2 separate regions of the Homo sapiens genome follow, and region 2 is linked to region 1. Evidence: fine-mapped expression QTL. Tissue or cell type: skin. Region 1 holds a variant in brackets; the other region holds the start of a gene. All regions are shown on one strand. Distances are from middle to middle.

Region 1 (8,101 bases):
TTTACTACCATCCTGTTTCTCCTTAATTATTAATGAGAAACTTGGGTTAAGAGAGAGTTTATACTTCTGCAGAGAGTTTAAGCCAATATCTGCATCTTCTGCTACTTCTAGTATAAATCTTGTGCCAGGCTGTGCAGACTCACTTATTTGCAGCTCAAAGGAATTTTGCGTGAATTTTGGCGTGTGGTCATTAATGTCCTCGATCTCCACATTCACGTGATAAAAGTTCAGTGGATTTTCAGCAACAGCCTCAAATTCCAGAGCACAAGCTGGCTTCTTCCCGCATATCTCCTCCCTGTCTAGCCTGCTGCTCACAAGCAACTCCCCGCTCTCTGCGCTCACGGTGAAGTAAGGCTTCTCCGAACTGACGCGCAGTTTTCGAGTCGGTAACTCCTGGACGCTGAACCCCAGGTCCGTGGCGAGGTTCCCCACTACGGAGCCCTTGGGCATTTCCTCGGGAATCCTGTAGCGGATCTGCTCACAGAGCGCCGGGCAGAACAAAGACAGCAGGAAGAGAAAGAGCACTGGCAGCCTCTCAGCCCGGCCCAGCTCCCCGGCGCCGCTCCCCATCCCTCTTGCTCTCCTCAGCTTGCTCACCAGCCTGGAGACGCCAGGTTACAAATAACCTCTGTATTGTAGATTTTTGGATCTCCGAACGGGCTTTAGTTCCAGTTCCAGTTTAGGAAACGATTCTTTTTCCGAGGAGGAAGCGGTGTAAAGGCCGGCGCTGGGGAGTCTGAGCTGGGGCTGCCCTGGAAAGCGCGCTGCGGCTGCGCGAGGAGATCTGGAGCGCCAAGCTCTGCACTTTGGCCAACAGCGGCGCCCAGAGTCAGCACTAGGAAACTACAGCCTCTGCGGCTTCAAGTTAACCAGTGCAGTAATTGTTTTTGTGTGCCTAACTTAACAAGCCAAGTTTTTACGTCCATATACTTAATAAAAAATTATAACAACTTCTTTAAGGTATCTTTCTCTGTTTTCCAAATTGTTAGAAATATCACGTTGGGTTTTTATACAAACCTGCATACATTGGTCCATTCTTTCACCATTCTGCAAACATACCTTGAACTCTTAGCTAGAACTAAGTATTGCCCTTGTCACTGGCAATATAATAATTAATATGATACAGTTCTTGCTCTCAGAGCCTTCATACTATACTGATTTCAAAAATTCATTTTTTATTAGCTATGGAAACAATTTTATCATTCTTCTGTTCATTTCTATGATTTCCAACTCCCCAATATTTCTAGTGTTTTATATTACACATATTAGGGAAATCTATACTATTTAAAACTATTTTGTAAAGTTGTGGCAATTTTATACCAATCCCCAAACATCTCCTCTTCCTGACTATATTAACATTCTTTATAAAAATAATTTTTCTTTACTCTTCTACTTCAGGAAATATTCATTCAAGTATACTGCCCATATGATGTAGCTAAGAAATGATATACCCTACTACGTTGCTCTTCTTCATATCTCAAAATACTTCTCTTATGTCATATCTTTTACAGTACATAAATTCATTCTTAAGAGTTATTGGGGAAATGCTTATCTATTCTGCAATACAAGGTACAAAGGGATATTCTAGTGGATTGCATTATTATCCTATCTGAAATGACTTTGGAATTGGATAAATGAAGCTCATAAGTTCATTTACATAAATTTGTGGACATTGGTCAACCTTCTTTAGTCCATTTGTCAGATTAATAAAAACAACTAGCCAACATTTTTAGGGAGAGTAAGGATTTTCTTTCCTACCAGGGCAACTTTCATCCGAGTTTTTAAAATTGCAAAGTGCCAATAATATGTTGTCCTCTCAAATGTGCATCCAAATGGTACACAAACTATGAAGTTAACTCCCACTCCACTGAATATGCACCATACAGTAGAACACTACACAATCCTTAGGAAATGTCCTTTTCATTAATAACAAACATTTATTGGGTCATCTACTTCTACCTTACAACAATCAATTCAGGTATTAGCTTTATTCAAATGCTACAAGAAGGTATGCAGGAATACAATAATGGATAGCCTATACCGAGTTTTTACTATTAATATTAGTTTTTTTTTTTTTTGAGACGGAGTCTCACCCTGTTGCCCAGGCTGGAGTGCAGTGACAGGATCGAGGCTCACTGCAACCTCCACCTCCCGGGTTCAAGTGATTCTTCTGCCTCAGCCTCCCGAGTAGCTGGGACCACAGGCGCATGCCACCATGCCTGGCTAATTTTTGTAGTTTTTAGTAGAGACGGGGTTTCACCATGTTTGCCAGGCTGATCTTGAACTCCTGACCTCAGGTGATCCACCCACCTCAGTCTCCCAAAGTGCTGGGATTACAGGCGTGAGCCACCGCACCCGGCCTAATAATAGTTTTTTTAGAGACAGGGTCTAGTTCTGCCACCTAGGCTGGAGTGCAGTGGCATGATCATAGCTCACTGCAGTTTCAAACCCCCGGGGCTCAAGCGGTCCTCCTGCCCCAGCCTCCCAAAGTGCTGGGATTTCAGACATGAGGCACTGTGTCCAGCCAAGACTGAATAACTTTAATTGAATTGATCAGCTTATTTAGAACTTGTGTACCTGAAACATTGGTTCTTAATATCAACATTCTCACCACTTCACATCAATGCACAACCGAAACAGCTAATTGGAATTGTATTGAAATATGTTCTTACATATTTTACAAAAGTCACTTTCAACAGTTTAAAATTACATTTTAATTCAGATCTAATGTTTTTGCTTTTGTTTTTTGTTTGGGGGAGCAATGGACATTCTAGGCTTTAGATTTCATGTCTCCATGGGCATGGAGCCCAGGTGACCACTGACTCACATACTTAATATTTAGTAACCAGTCTCATCTCCCACCAAGATCCATCTTTAAAGTTTGTTCATGTTTTGAAGGATGGTAAGAAGTATTAAAGTTTTGAAGGGCACTGGTACAGAAACAGGGCTCAGAAAAGAGGTTTAAAGTGAAGAAATCTACAAGAGCCTAGTTACAGGTTCAAATGCTAAACATAACCCTAAAAATTCTGAGATATATTTTACTTTTGCTAAGCTAATAACAAGGCTTTAGACTTCTTGATAATTTTCTGAAGTTCTAGTTTGGGATACACACACACACACACACACACACACACACACACACACACACACACACAAACAATAGCAAAATTACCAGTATGGACGGGTAGCTACTTCTTAAGTGAATGAGTGATAATAGGAATAAAATACTGGAAGGCTTAAAATGGTTGAACAATCTTTTCCAAGTCGTTTAAAAGCAAATGAAACAATAACCTATGACTATTAGAGTTCAATTTTATAGTAACACCACCAAAATAAACCCAAAACTCTGTGATACACCTTAAAAATTATTTTCAACTATCTTCACAATGTTTTTCAAAACATAATTTATGCCAAATAAAATTCATCTGGAAATTAAAAGCAAGCAAAGAACTAAACTCACCTGACCATGATCAGCTTCATTCTTATATTCATGAAAATCTACGGATGTTAACAAAGAATCATTTTTCTCACAGCCCTCCTGACTGATGAGCATGTCTGCGTAGTTGGGCTGGGGAAAGATCAGGTGACTCTTCCGCGAGTCGGCGGTGAGGGAGACTTCCTGGGAATAGGTCTGCAGGAAAGCCTGTACCTCCTCAACACCCACAAAATGTGAGGCAGGCACGCCTACCAATCTGCCACCGGAATCCTGGAGCAGGCGTGACTTGTGCCAGCGCCTCAGCCTGAGCCCCAGAAGCACAGCGACAAAGGCGAGGAAGACACAGGAGATGGCAGCCACTGCCACCACGAGATAGAGTGTAAGGCTCGAATCGTTCGGGTCGACCGAAGGCTTCAGACTGCCCAACTCGGTCAGGACTTCGGGGATGCTGTCAGCCACGGCTACGGTGAGCGTGACAGTGGCGGAGAGAGGGGGCTGGCCATGGTCCTGGACGGCCACCACGAGGCTCTGCTTGAGCGCATCTCTGTCCAGCAGGGCTCGCGCCGTGCGCACCTCGCCCGTGTGCAGACCCACCGAGAAGAGTCCCGGCTCGCTGGCCTTGAGCAGGCGGTAGGACAGCCAGGCGTTCTGGCCCGAGTCTCTGTCCACCGCCACCACCTTGGTCACCAGGTAGCCACGCTCTGCGGAGCGGGGCGCCAGCTCCACGCCAGTGGAACCGTCTGTGGGGAGGGCGGGGTACAGGATCTCGGGCGCGTTGTCATTCTGGTCCAGCACGAACAGGCTCAGTGACATGTTGCTGCTGAGGGGCGGGTCCCCGCTGTCGCTGGCTGTTACCAGTAGCTGCAGGTCTCGGATCTGCTCATAGTCGAAAGATTGCAGCGCATACAGGACACCGGTGTCAGAGTTGATGGAGATATACGAGGACAGGGGCGCCCCCTGCAGCGTGTCCTCGGTCACAGAGTAAGTGACCTGGGCATTCTCCTGGCTGTCGGGGTCGTGTGCAGTCAAGGAAAAGATGGAGGCTCCTCTCAGGTTGTTCTCTAGGATATACGCTGAGTAGGAGGCATGA[G/A]GGAAAGTAGGAGGGTTGTCGTTAATGTCTGCCACGTGCAGAGCGATTTGAGTTTCAGTGGACAGAGGTGGTGTTCCTAGATCTGAGGCCATCACTGTGATATTGTAGATAGAGACATTTTCTCGGTCCAAATATTTCCTTGTCACTAATCTATAATAATTACCTATTGACTTTTCTAATTTAAAAGGTAAATTATCACGTGTGTAACAGACAACTTGACCATTCTTTCCAGAGTCTTGGTCATGCACACTCAAGAAGGCAATTACTGTCCCGGGAAGAGAATTTTCTAACACTGGGCTAAACAAAGACGTAATGATCACTTCTGGTCTATTGTCATTTACATCTTCCACCGAAATGAGCAATTTGGTCCTCCCCAGAAGTGCCCCCACATCTTCGGCTTGTATTTCCATTTCATAAAATGAACATTCTTCATAATCTAGACTTTTTGCTATTGATATTTCCCCAGTATTTTCATTAAGCTGGAATAACGGAGTTTGTTTTTCATTAATTTTCCGGAATTTGTATGCCACTTTTCCGTTGATTCCCTCATCCGGGTCGCTGGCTGTTACAGTAAGCAGCCGCGTGCCTGGGGGCATGTTCTCAAGGACTTTCACTCGGTAAATCGGGTGAGGAAAAACCGGGGCATTGTCATTTGTATCCAACACTGTCACGTGGATGCGCACTGTGCTAGAGCGAGGCGGCTTGCCGCCATCCGAGGCCGTGAGGACCAGGTGGTGAGCAGCCTCTTCCTCCCTGTCCAGGGCGCGCTCCAGCACCAGCTCTGGGTTTATGGCTCCATTGTCTCCAGTCTGCACGTCCAGGGAGAAGTGGTGATTGGGGCTGAGCTGGTAGCTCTGGAGGGAGTTCACGCCCACATCCGGGTCAACAGCTTCTGGGAGTGGATAACGTGCTCCAGGAACCGCGATTTCGTTAATTTTTACTTCTAGATCTTCGACCTGGAATTTTGGGTTATTATCGTTAATATCAATTATTTCTATTTCTACCCCAAAGAGTTTTCCTTTATCCTCAACCAGGGTGTTAATATTTATCAGACACCGCGGGCTCTGAGCGCAGAGCTCCTCCCGATCTATCCTGCCCGCGGTGATCAAGCTGCCGCTGCGCGGGTTCAGAGCAAAGAGCTGCGTCCTACCTCTGGAGACGATACGGACTCCGTGCTTCGCCAGCTTCCGGGGGTCCAGCCCCAGGTCCTTGGAGATATTACCCACGAAGGAGCCTTTGTCCGTCTCTTCTGGCACAGAGTAGCGAATCTGTCCCCTCCCGATTTCCCACAGCGTTCCCAGCAGCGCGCACAGCAGGATCAGCTCGCCGCGTCTGGGGCGACTCTGTGGAGCGGCCATTGTTGTTTTGCTGCAGAATCCTCTCAGAATCTTCACTGTGCATAAATGGGTCTTATTTAGTTTCTTGCCGCAGCTATGGAGATGACAATCCTCCGGAAACCTGGAGTGCCTCCAAACAGGGGTCGGGTTTCGCTGCAGTCCAGCAGTTAGTTTGTGGCATCTGCGGGTCTTCGTGAGGTGTGAGATCTGAGTGTTTTCGGTTGCATTTGTCTTCCAGTAGGTGAACAGCGGCGCTTACAGTCCTAAATAGTTACTGCACTGAGATACAGATTACTTCTAAATGTAATACTCTACTAGATTACTGAGAAAAAAAAATCATTTGCTTATTACTTTGTTTTGAATTTATTTGATTTATCCGTAAACCCATATTTTAAAAGAAACAGCCAAAGAATGTGAGATGAAGGTTTTATTTAGTGTTATTAAATGATCAGATTAGATCAGAATGATCAGATTGTAGCATCGGATTAAATTACTCACATTTCTGCAATACATTTGGTCTTAAAAAAAACATGATACTTTCATTTCCCATTGTGCTCTAAGCTTTATTGTAAATGTCTCCAATATATACTAACAAATAACTAAGAACTTCAGTTGTCACCAGAAATGAATTTATCTTGAGACTAAAATAGACCTACTGGAGATGACTGACTCAGAAATTGTTTTATTTGGTTTAAACTACTTAATCATTTTACAAGCTTTCTATAGAGTTGTTGCTTTTAAATTATTCTTCTAAATGCCACTTGAATTACATGTCGATAATATTTTCAAATAAAAATTGTGGAATTTCAATAGGATAAATGCTTTTACCATTGCAGTTTTATGAGATATTACATTGTTTTGCTATTTTATTTACATTGTTTATATTTTTCTATTTGAATACTTGAAAGGTACAGATGAATATATGATAAAAAGCAAAGCTCCATCCCATCCCTTTCACCAAAGAGATGATTAAATTTAAAGCAGACTTGACTTTTACATATATTCTAAAATTAACTTTACCTACATTAACACTTTGATCTAAAAAACTGCAAAAAGTAATGACTATATAATACTTACTAAGAAGCCAAAGGATAAGTATGACTACAAAAAAGTCTGTTTCCCTTCAAGACCAGCCTGGGCAACGTAGCAGATGAACTTATTTCACCCTTCCTTTGAAGACTGGTATGATAGTTTTTTCACTGACTAAAACTTTCTTAAAACCACTCATGAAATCTGAAAACTTTATATTTTCCTGTGAATATATTTTCTTATGCATATGGAAAACTGGGTAGACAATGGAAACCATACCAGTTAAATTAGTGAAAGAAAATATTTTCTCTACTGAAAACAGAAAAATTAGCCAGGTCTGGTGGCATGAGCCTGAGTTCCAGCTAGTCAGGAGGCTGATGCAGAAGGAATGCTTGAGCCCAGGAGTTTGAGGCTGGAGGGAGCTATCATTGTGCCACTGCACTACAGCCTGAGTAACAGACAGAGACTCTGTCTCAAAAAAAAAAAAAGAAAAAAAAAAGAATCGAAAGACGTTTCCTTCTTTCAGCAATTTGTAAAGTGGCCATTAACTGAAGCAGTTGCTTAGATATACCTAGCAAAAGGCTCATATAATGTTCCTTGGTATTTTGTATATATTTTGTATGCACACCAGATTGGCAGTTTTCAAGACTATATTTCTTTCCTAGAGGTAGGAGAATGATTAGAAGACCTCTAGCTATATTAGTTTAGGGCTGCAGATAAGGCAGTTACACATTATATATTAGGGCTGTGTGTGAGAGGGACAACAGACACAAAACATTGTCTTTTCTTTGATGAAGGATATAGAATGAGCTTGAATACAGATTAATCCTGAAACTCCTATGTTACAAGTAAGGAGAATCTGCTTTTGATCTTCTAATGAGCATAGTAGACCTTTTTCTAAGTAAAAGGATCTCTCTCACACACACACACACACACACGCACACACAGCGTACACTGCATATAATCACAAGGGGTCCATGGACATAAAAATCCAGTTGACTCCTTATTCTAAGAGCTTTTGAAACAAAAGGGAAGTTAACACAGGAAACAAAACAGTGGACTACTATGGAGACCATACCAGTTAAATTAGTTAAGAAAAGTGTTGAATTTTAGCTTAAATTCTTTGGCTTTATTATTTTTATATTTATGGTATATCCAAGCTGAAAAAAGTATTCATCATATATTAGTCAACAAGAAGGAAAATGTATA
Region 2 (8,101 bases), 830 kb after region 1:
AAATGTCTCAGTTCCATGGAACTCTCACAGGAAATAATGCCACTGGCAACAGCTTGGAGAAAACAATTTTTTCTTAGTCTAAAAGTTATCCCAGAATTAAGATACTCAGGACCCCAGAGGAACAAAATTGTTTGAGGGGAGTTGCGCAGACAGAAGACACAAGACAATCATGGCTGTGGTTGTAGGAACCACCCTACAGCCTAGAAGACTTTATTAAGATCTTATTGCTTATGCAGTTAAAGAGACACTGATTGAGCTACAGGTTTCCTGTACCTGGTCTCAGGTCACTCTGTGCAGAGCTTCCCCAGGCTGTTGGGAGCTGGGAGACTGCTAGGCAGGGGCAGGCCCCAGAGTGGGAAGCATGGTACCTCCTAGGAGCCTCAGAGTGGGTAGCGGGCTTCAAGACAGCCCTCAGGGTGAACAGAGAGGTCAGGAGTGTCGGCTTAAGCCAGGGCCCAGGGGCTACATTCCCTGAGATGAGTCAAGCCCAGCCCTCTCTGGGGTTTCCAGAACAAAGGCTAGGTGTGGGGAGCAGCACTGTGGAGAGGGCAGGGAGCATGTCTCTAGGCATTGCTGGAACTGGAGGAGACTGTCAGAGTGGTTTGGGTAATGGTTGTATAATCTGTGGCAACTGGGCCTTCTTGCATGAAAGTGGAAGGGTGAGGATCCCTTATGGAAGAGTCATGCACCATGGCTGGGCTGGACTAGCCAGCTCCAGTGGCTCTGCTGGGTGACTAAAGTAGGCAAGGAAAGCCACTTGTTGCCCACACCCCACTTTCATCAACTCTGTTCATGCAGGACAAAGCAGGGAGCTGCCCAACAAGGATGGGGTTATTTCTCAGGCCTAGGTATTGATGTTACCTTAATTCTTTAGTCTGGAAGAACTTGGTTGGGGGTGGGGGATGGTAAGCATTTCCTTAACCAAACCCACACTTCACATCTCCTAGGGGTACCCCTTCATCCACCAACCTCCAGAGAATAACCTGGCTGCCCTCACTTCTCCAGCTTTTCTCACAAGGCACTTGTTACAGGGCTGCTGATGGGAGAGGGAGGAAGGCCTGGGAGGGGGATCTGGTGGTGGCGCCCAATCTACAGGGTCCGGAATCAGGGTGGAAGTTGTCAGGGACTAGCGGCTGCCATAGTACAGGCGCATGGCCAGGCCAATGAGCAATGTGGCCAGGAAGAAGGCGGCTGTGAGCTGCAGCCGTAGCAGGACTGCTGAGAGCACGGCGTTGACCACCAGCGAGCAGGACACCACAAAGAGGCGTGTGATGCTGCTGCCATGCTTCATGACAGCAGACATGAGCAGTCCATTTAGTGCCTGGCTCAGCACCACGAGTGCTGCCCATCCTGAGAAACCTTCCAGGAGGCCTGGGCCAGAGCCGCCGCCAGCATGCAGACCTAGATTCAGAAGCACACCAAAAGTGTAGAGGAAGAGGTTCTGAAGTGCCAGGGGCAGCCGCTGTCGCTTCATGAGCAGCTCTGTGTACACTGACGACAAGCCTGAGATGAGGCAGTACAGAATGAGGAGCAGCAGGCCTAGCGGAGTGATATGCAGGGGCATGGGGCTGGCAGCAGCTGCTGGAGGGGGACTGGGAAGGGTGTTCCCGGGAACTTGAAGGCCCCCTGCTGCATAGCAGGCTCCCGCAGCCATCAGCAGCAGCAGCGCTAACCCCTGACGCACAGAGAGGCGGTGCCGGAGGCAGAGGCAGTAGAGCACAGCTGTGCTTCCAATCTTGAGATTACTCAGCACCTGGTAGGTGCTGGGGTCCATGTAACGCTGAAGATAGATCACCAGGTTGTTGTTAGCGCCATAGAGCAGGGCTGATAGTGCGAAGGGAGCAGCCTGGCGCCAGGGTGGGGGCCCCTGGGGCCATGCTTGCCAGCCTACCAGAAGGGAGAAGGCGCATAACAGTAGCTTGGTCAGCTCAGTCAGCAGCACGGCTGAGGAGGGCCGGAAGGGCACTCGGCCGTCCACATGGCACAGTGCCAGCAATGGGGCATGGGCACCGTACATGGCAGTGGATAGGAGTAGCATCAGGGTCCAGCGGGCCTGCCTGGGACGGCCCAGGCCTGGCATACCCCCATCCTCTACACTCATACCCACACAAGACCCTGGGTGGCTAAGGGGCAGCAGGGATTGCAACACGTTTGGGGAAAATCAAGTTATGGAGCCAGCTCCCAGGAAGGAGAAGCCGTGGAACATTGCCAGAGAGAATACTGAGGATCAGAGGCATCTACCAACTCCACAGTCAGGGCTTGAAGAGTAAGGGGCTGGTGGTCCTTGAAGCCACAGTCTTGGGGCGAGTCCCATGGAGCTAGGAAGGGGAAGAAGGAATCCAGGGTGCAGGCTGAGGAACTACTGTCCACAATCTGCAGGAAGGGAGGCAAGGATGAAGGTGGCAGGAAAGTTGGAGATAGCAAATGGATGACAGCTGGGGAATCCAGATAAAGTGTCTCCACCTGAAGGCTGAGCTGCTCATCCTGCCTCTTCCATGGCACCTAGAGCTAGTCGGGCCCCTTGCGTAGCAACTGCAAATAGTCCCTTAATGTCTTCTCCACGTTGGGCACAGCATATGCCTGAGCCGCATAGATGCCAGTGCAGGTGCCCACAGCAAAGCCCAATACTGCTGATGCCCTCAGTTTGGCCACCACATAGCCAGCCAGGAATCCCTTGAGGAACGGGGAGGACAACAGCGAGCCATCCTGCAGAGAAAAATGCAGAAGGAAACTTAGCTAGGCTCCTTCCTGACTGTCCAGGGGCTACTCAAGCTGGGATTAGAGCATTCCACCACCAGCTCCTCCTCACCCTGGACAACCGTGGTATTTTCTCCAGATTTTTCCCAAGGTTCTGGGGCCAGAAAAAGAACCAAGCAGTTCTGATCACACAATCTCAGAACCCTGGGGTCAGAAAGCTCCAACCATAGAACTCCACCGCCACACAAGGTCAGAGATGCCCCTAGCCCTGCCGGTTTCTCCAGCCTCATTTCCTAGCATGCTCCCCAACTACTGTAGCCAAATGGACCTCCTTTCACCCCTCATGTTTATAATGCTACTTCCTACCACAAGGCCTTTACATATGCTGTTCTGCCTGGAATGTTCTTTCCTCCCCTCTTCACCTACTTAACCACTACTTAAGATATTAGTTCATGTGCCATTCAGAAAAATTGTCCTTAGGGTGACTGAGAATAGGCCCTCAATAATCACTTGCTGAAGAAATCTCTACCATCCATTTAACACTCTCAAGAGCATGTTGGGCAATAAAGCCTAAGGCAGGGGTGGGGTGGGACAGTCCTTACCTGGCCCACTCCACTGTTGACTTCGTCTTCTACACGCCGCTGCAGGCTTTCCAGCTGGTTCTTGAGAAATGCCAGGTCCTTAAGCTTAGGCAGAGAATCCTAGGACAAGCGAGAGGCTGGCTCCAGCAGTCTGACTAAGCCCCACCCCTTGCTCAATTCCATCAGAAGCTGGGAATTGGGAGGGGATGGGGTGAGCCAGAAAGACCTTTTCCTATAAAAGCTTCCTGAGATGGCAGTGGCAAAGAAAGACAAGCATTGAAAAGCACAGAATTCAAATGAGGGCCAGGAAGGGACTGACAGATGGGATCTGAACCAGTAACTTACATCAACCTTGACAAGAATTTTATATAGCAAGCAGTATGTAGGAAAGGCAGGAGGGACAGCTAGGGACCTTTAATTAGGTCCATCAGGAAACCACTACTGACTCCATTATGAGCTCCTTGAAAGTCGTGACCAGTCTGTCTTGGCTACTATGTTCTAGTGCCTGACATTTAGTAAATGTGTGGGTAATGCTGAGCTTCTAGACCAATGGTGAGTAATGGACCGAGGCAGTTTCCTGGACAATTTTATTGTCTTGGTTCCTGGATGGGCTTTACCTCTTTCTTCCCAAGGACATCCCAAACTGAATGTGAGTGACTGGATGTGACTGAGAATGACAAAAAAGACTGTCGGCAAGTGTGTAAGTAAATGGACTGAGTGATTTTGATCGCATATAAGTATGAAATTCAGAATGTATGCAAAGGAGTGTTTGAATGAGGGTGGTGTGAGTGTCCGTGTGATTGGAAACATCGTGTCACTGGGAAGAAAATTTCGGGAGCTAGGGAATGGGGTAAAGTGAGGAGTGTTTAAGGGTGAATGTTTTTGAGTCTGTGCTAGTAACGGGTTCGTGATGGTTCCCAGGAGGGGACATCTGGGGGATCCACGGCTCCTCCCGCCTCGCCGAATGCTCTCCCCACACCACTCCACACTGTTGAGGCAGTTGACAGGAGCCGCAGAAGAAACAAGGGACATCCTCACTCCTGAGCCGCTCCAGAGTCGCTTCTCCCCGGAACTAAAAAGGTCAAGGAGAGTGAAGACCACGCCCGGCTGCAGATCACCCCCACGGCCACTCACCTTGTCATCCGCCATCTTCCCCGCCGAACTTGTTGCGCAGGCGCATCCCCGCCTCCCTCGTGCCGACTGCCCCGGCCATCTTTACGGAGGGCGAAGGCACTTCCGGAGCATTTTTGGAAAGGGGGAGGTGCTTTCCTAGTGGCCAAGTACGCCTCTCTCAGATACTTCCACGTGACCCCCTCCCGTCGAGTCTCAGGCTGCGTGTGAGCGCACTCACGACCGGGGCGCGATGATCTCACTCGTGCGCGAGTGCGCGCGGCGCATGTTCGGCGTGTCGGTCTTCAGGCGCCTGATGAGTTCATAGTTGGGCGGTGGTGTCAGCGGTTTCGCTGGCGTTCGTGGGCCTCCCCCGGACCCACACACGGAAACACGCAACCATTCGGGGATCCAGACGCCCGTTTACACGCACCACCCCTGGGCGGGCTGTGCGGCTCAGGCCCTCCCCCGGGACCGGCCCGTGTCCCGCCCCGTGTCCCGCCCCGTATTTGTGCGGCGCCAGCTGGCCCCGCAGCCTGCGGCGCAGAGAGGCTGGGCTTGCAGGCGCAGTAGCTCCAGAGGTCGCGCTGGGCTGAGAGTGCGGGCCGGCAGAGGCTGGCGGGGAGCAGCCGGGGTTATGCTGGGCAAGGATTACATGCTGGCCATCATTCTGGTCAACTGCGATGGTGTGCACGGAGGGGCCCGGTGGGAAGACCAGGAGCTGAGGGAGGACGAGGGAATCCGAAAGGCTACTCTGGGGCTCAAAGACGGTGGGGGATACCTCTCTGTGTAGGGACCAGGGGGCGAATGAACCCGGTCTTTACATGTGATGTCTTCAAGATTGAGGAGCCTGGATCTTCAGCCTAAGAACTGACCCATTTTGGGGATGGAGAGGGGATTATGACAGCATGTTATTCTGAACTCACAAATCATATGCTCCCTCCTCTCTAATCCGGTGTTCCTGTAGATGACTTGTGGGGGGACCACAGTCTGGAGGTGGAGGCTGGCCTGCCTCCTGGCTGGAGGAAGATCCACGATGCTGCAGGTACTTACTACTGGCATGTACCCAGCGGTAGCACCCAGTGGCAGCGCCCAACCTGGGAACTAGGAGATGCAGAGGACCCAGGCACGGTAGGTAGAGTGTGAGGAGGAGGTCTGAGCCCATGTGTGGACCTAGGTCTGCTGTTAAACTGACTAACTCCCACTCTACAGGGAACGGAGGGGATCTGGGGACTGCGGCCCCCCAAAGGGAGATCCTTCTCCAGCCTGGAGAGTTCACTGGACCGGAGGTAACGGGTGGCCCAGGCAAAATGAAAGGCTTGGGGTTCCATGGTGTTCAAAAATGCAGCTGGACCCATGGTCTGCTTTCCAGCCCAGGTTCTGGATTCTGTCACATGTTTTGGGTTCTGTTACGTTCTTGGCTCTGTCCCAGGTTCTTAACTGTCAGTATTTTGAGTTTTATCCCTTGTTCTAAGCTCTTGTTTGTAGCTACATGTTTTTCATATTCTTGGTCCTAACCTATCATGTTCTAGACCTTGGCCATTAAGTCCTCTGTTCTAGGGTCTCTTGTCCCACTTTGGGGTTCTGGTCCACATATTGGACCCTGTTCTATTTTGTGACTTTTATTTTTTATTTTTTGAGATGGAGTCTCACTCTGTCATCCAGGCTGGAGTGCAGTGGCACGATCTTGGCTCACTGCAACCTCCGCCTCCCAGGTTCAAGTCATTCTCCTGCCTCAGCCTCCTGAGTAGCTGAAACTACAGGCACATGCCACCATGCCCAGCTAATGTTTGTATTTTTAGTAGATATGGGGTTTCACCATGTTGGCCAGGATGGTCTCGATATCCTGACCTCATGATCCACCCGTCTCAGCCTCCCAAAGTGTTGGGATTACAGGCGTGAGCCACCACTGCACCTAGCCTTGTGACTTTTATTCTATGTCCTGTGTCTGGGTCCTATGTCCTGAATTTTCCCTCAAATTCTGAGTCACACTTTATGTTACGTTAATATGTCCTGGGCTCTACCCTGCTCTGGTTTTATATTTCTGGTGCTATATTCTGGGTCTTGCCCCTCATCCTGTGCTTATCAAGTTGTCTAGGCCTCACCAGTGTCCCTACTGTAGGAAATGTGGTCCTCTTAACAGCTCTGCTCTGTTTCAGTAACTCTCTGTCCTGGTATGGTGGGGAATCCTACATCCAGAGCATGGAGCCAGGGGCTAAGGTAGTGACTTGGGCCTGAGGGCATTGGGAGGTCCCAAGGGAAAGACAAGGGTGGGATTGGACTGAACAGAGGTGATCAAGGGTGAAGACAGGGAGTATGTATTGTGGCACCTGCCACCCTACTCCATCCTTATTAATTCCTGTCCCTTCCCCCAACCTGTCAGTGCTTTGCAGTCCGCTCTCTGGGCTGGGTAGAGGTACCTGAAGAGGACCTGGCACCGGGGAAGAGCAGTATTGCAGTCAATAACTGTATCCAGCAGCTGGCCCAGACCCGCAGCCGGAGCCAGCCTCCAGATGGTGCCTGGGGTGAGGTGAGTTGGCTGGGCCCTTTAATGGTTTGGGCCCAGGGCCCAGCAGAGGTAGCTGTCCCTGAATTTCCTATTTCTCATGGCAATGACCTTTATCTGAGCTCTGGGCTGACCTCTGTCCTTGGCAGGGCCAGAACATGCTGATGATCCTGAAGAAGGATGCCATGAGCCTAGTGAATCCCCTGGACCACAGTCTGATCCACTGCCAGCCTCTGGTGCACATCCGTGTGTGGGGCGTGGGGAGCTCCAAGGGCCGGTGAGGATGCCTACATCCCCCAAGCAAGAGCTACTTCTCCCTCCCGGCTGCAGGCTGTGATCCCCACTGATGCTGATCCCCAGTACTTGAACCCCTGGACACAGATCCTCTGATGTGGACCCAGGACTGCTTCCCCTGCCTGGTCCAGCCCTGGTTGGGGAGGGTGGGCCCAGCTCAGCAGGGACAGTTTGGGGAGAGTCCGAGAGGCTGGGCTGATTCCCTTCTGTGCTCCCACATGCTTCCGGAACAGTGACAGGTGAGTGAAAACCAGGTATCCTGAGCCCCATCCCTGATGTCCCTACTCCATCCCTGCTATATCCCTAGCCTGACTTTCCAGCCTCCTGCAGGCTCCTGCCTCTAACCAGCTTCTACCCCAGCCCCATCTCTGCCCCTGCTAGGGACTTCGCTTTTGTGGCAAGTGACAAAGATAGCTGTATGCTCAAGTGCCATGTGTTTTGCTGTGATGTCCCTGCCAAGGCCATTGCCAGTGCCCTACATGGGCTTTGTGCCCAGGTAAGTGTCAGGGGTGGGGCAGGGAATGTGGGTAAGGGGTTGGGTCTGAAGCTTCCAAGGTAGTTGGGGTGGTATTGGCCCTTTTACCCTAATTCCCCTCTCTCCCTGTGGGTCATGCTGGCTTCATTGTGTTTTAGATCTTGTCAGAGCGAGTAGAGGTCAGTGGTGATGCCTCTTGCTGCTCCCCAGACCCCATCTCTCCTGAAGACCTGCCACGGCAAGGTATGGGGAGGGGAGACCTGCATTGCTGCATTGGGGTGCTTTGGTGCTGCTTTGTGGGGGGGCGATTTCTGGTTATTTAATACTTCTGTGGATAAATTTCTGAGATGTCTGGTCTCAGGGATCCCAAGCCACTAGTTGGAGGAGCATCTATGAGCCATTTCTTCTACCAGCACCAGCTCTGACCTGAGTCCTGGC

Direction of the effects. Alleles are on the strand shown, and positions count from the first base shown. SD is a standard deviation of normalised expression in the study named.
In carriers of allele A in region 1, the expression in skin of the gene that starts at base 4,673 in region 2 tends to be higher than with G alone (large effect, 1.0 SD a copy in TwinsUK).

The links. PIP is the estimated chance that this variant, and not a neighbour inherited with it, causes the effect.
Region 2: APBB3 starts here. The variant in region 1 is fine-mapped to the expression of APBB3 in skin (TwinsUK, PIP 0.95).

What each region holds. Positions count from the first base shown.
Region 1 is chr5:141,390,597-141,398,697 of GRCh38, reverse strand. The region is part of intron 1 of PCDHGA1 (protocadherin gamma subfamily A, 1); the gene reads right to left. The region is part of intron 1 of PCDHGA2 (protocadherin gamma subfamily A, 2); the gene reads right to left. All of the region lies in intron 1 of PCDHGA3 (protocadherin gamma subfamily A, 3), which reads right to left. The region is part of intron 1 of PCDHGB1 (protocadherin gamma subfamily B, 1); the gene reads right to left. It also overlaps PCDHGA4, PCDHGB2, PCDHGA5, PCDHGB3, PCDHGA6 and PCDHGA7, and 4 more genes. The variant G/A (reference allele first, on the strand shown) is at 4,527.
Region 2 is chr5:140,561,170-140,569,270 of GRCh38, reverse strand. APBB3 (amyloid beta precursor protein binding family B member 3) reads left to right here and starts at 4,673. Exons shown (of 13, transcript NM_133173.3): 1 at 4,673-5,074; 2 at 5,356-5,519; 3 at 5,601-5,677; 4 at 6,548-6,608; 5 at 6,772-6,918; 6 at 7,044-7,171; 7 at 7,422-7,427; 8 at 7,570-7,684; 9 at 7,822-7,906. The coding sequence starts at 5,026. SLC35A4 (solute carrier family 35 member A4) reads right to left here and starts at 4,443. Exons shown (of 3, transcript NM_080670.4): 1 at 4,413-4,443; 2 at 3,300-3,398; 3 at 171-2,706. The coding sequence starts at 2,101. The coding sequence ends at 1,127. LOC131768270 (SLC35A4 upstream open reading frame protein) reads right to left here and starts at 4,443. Exons shown (of 3, transcript NM_001394034.2): 1 at 4,413-4,443; 2 at 3,300-3,398; 3 at 171-2,706. The coding sequence starts at 4,427. The coding sequence ends at 2,509. It overlaps MIR6831 (microRNA 6831), which reads left to right and starts at 5,520; the gene lies at 5,520-5,600. RefSeq lists enhancers at 4,366-4,485, 4,241-4,847, 5,456-5,515 and a silencer at 4,806-4,985.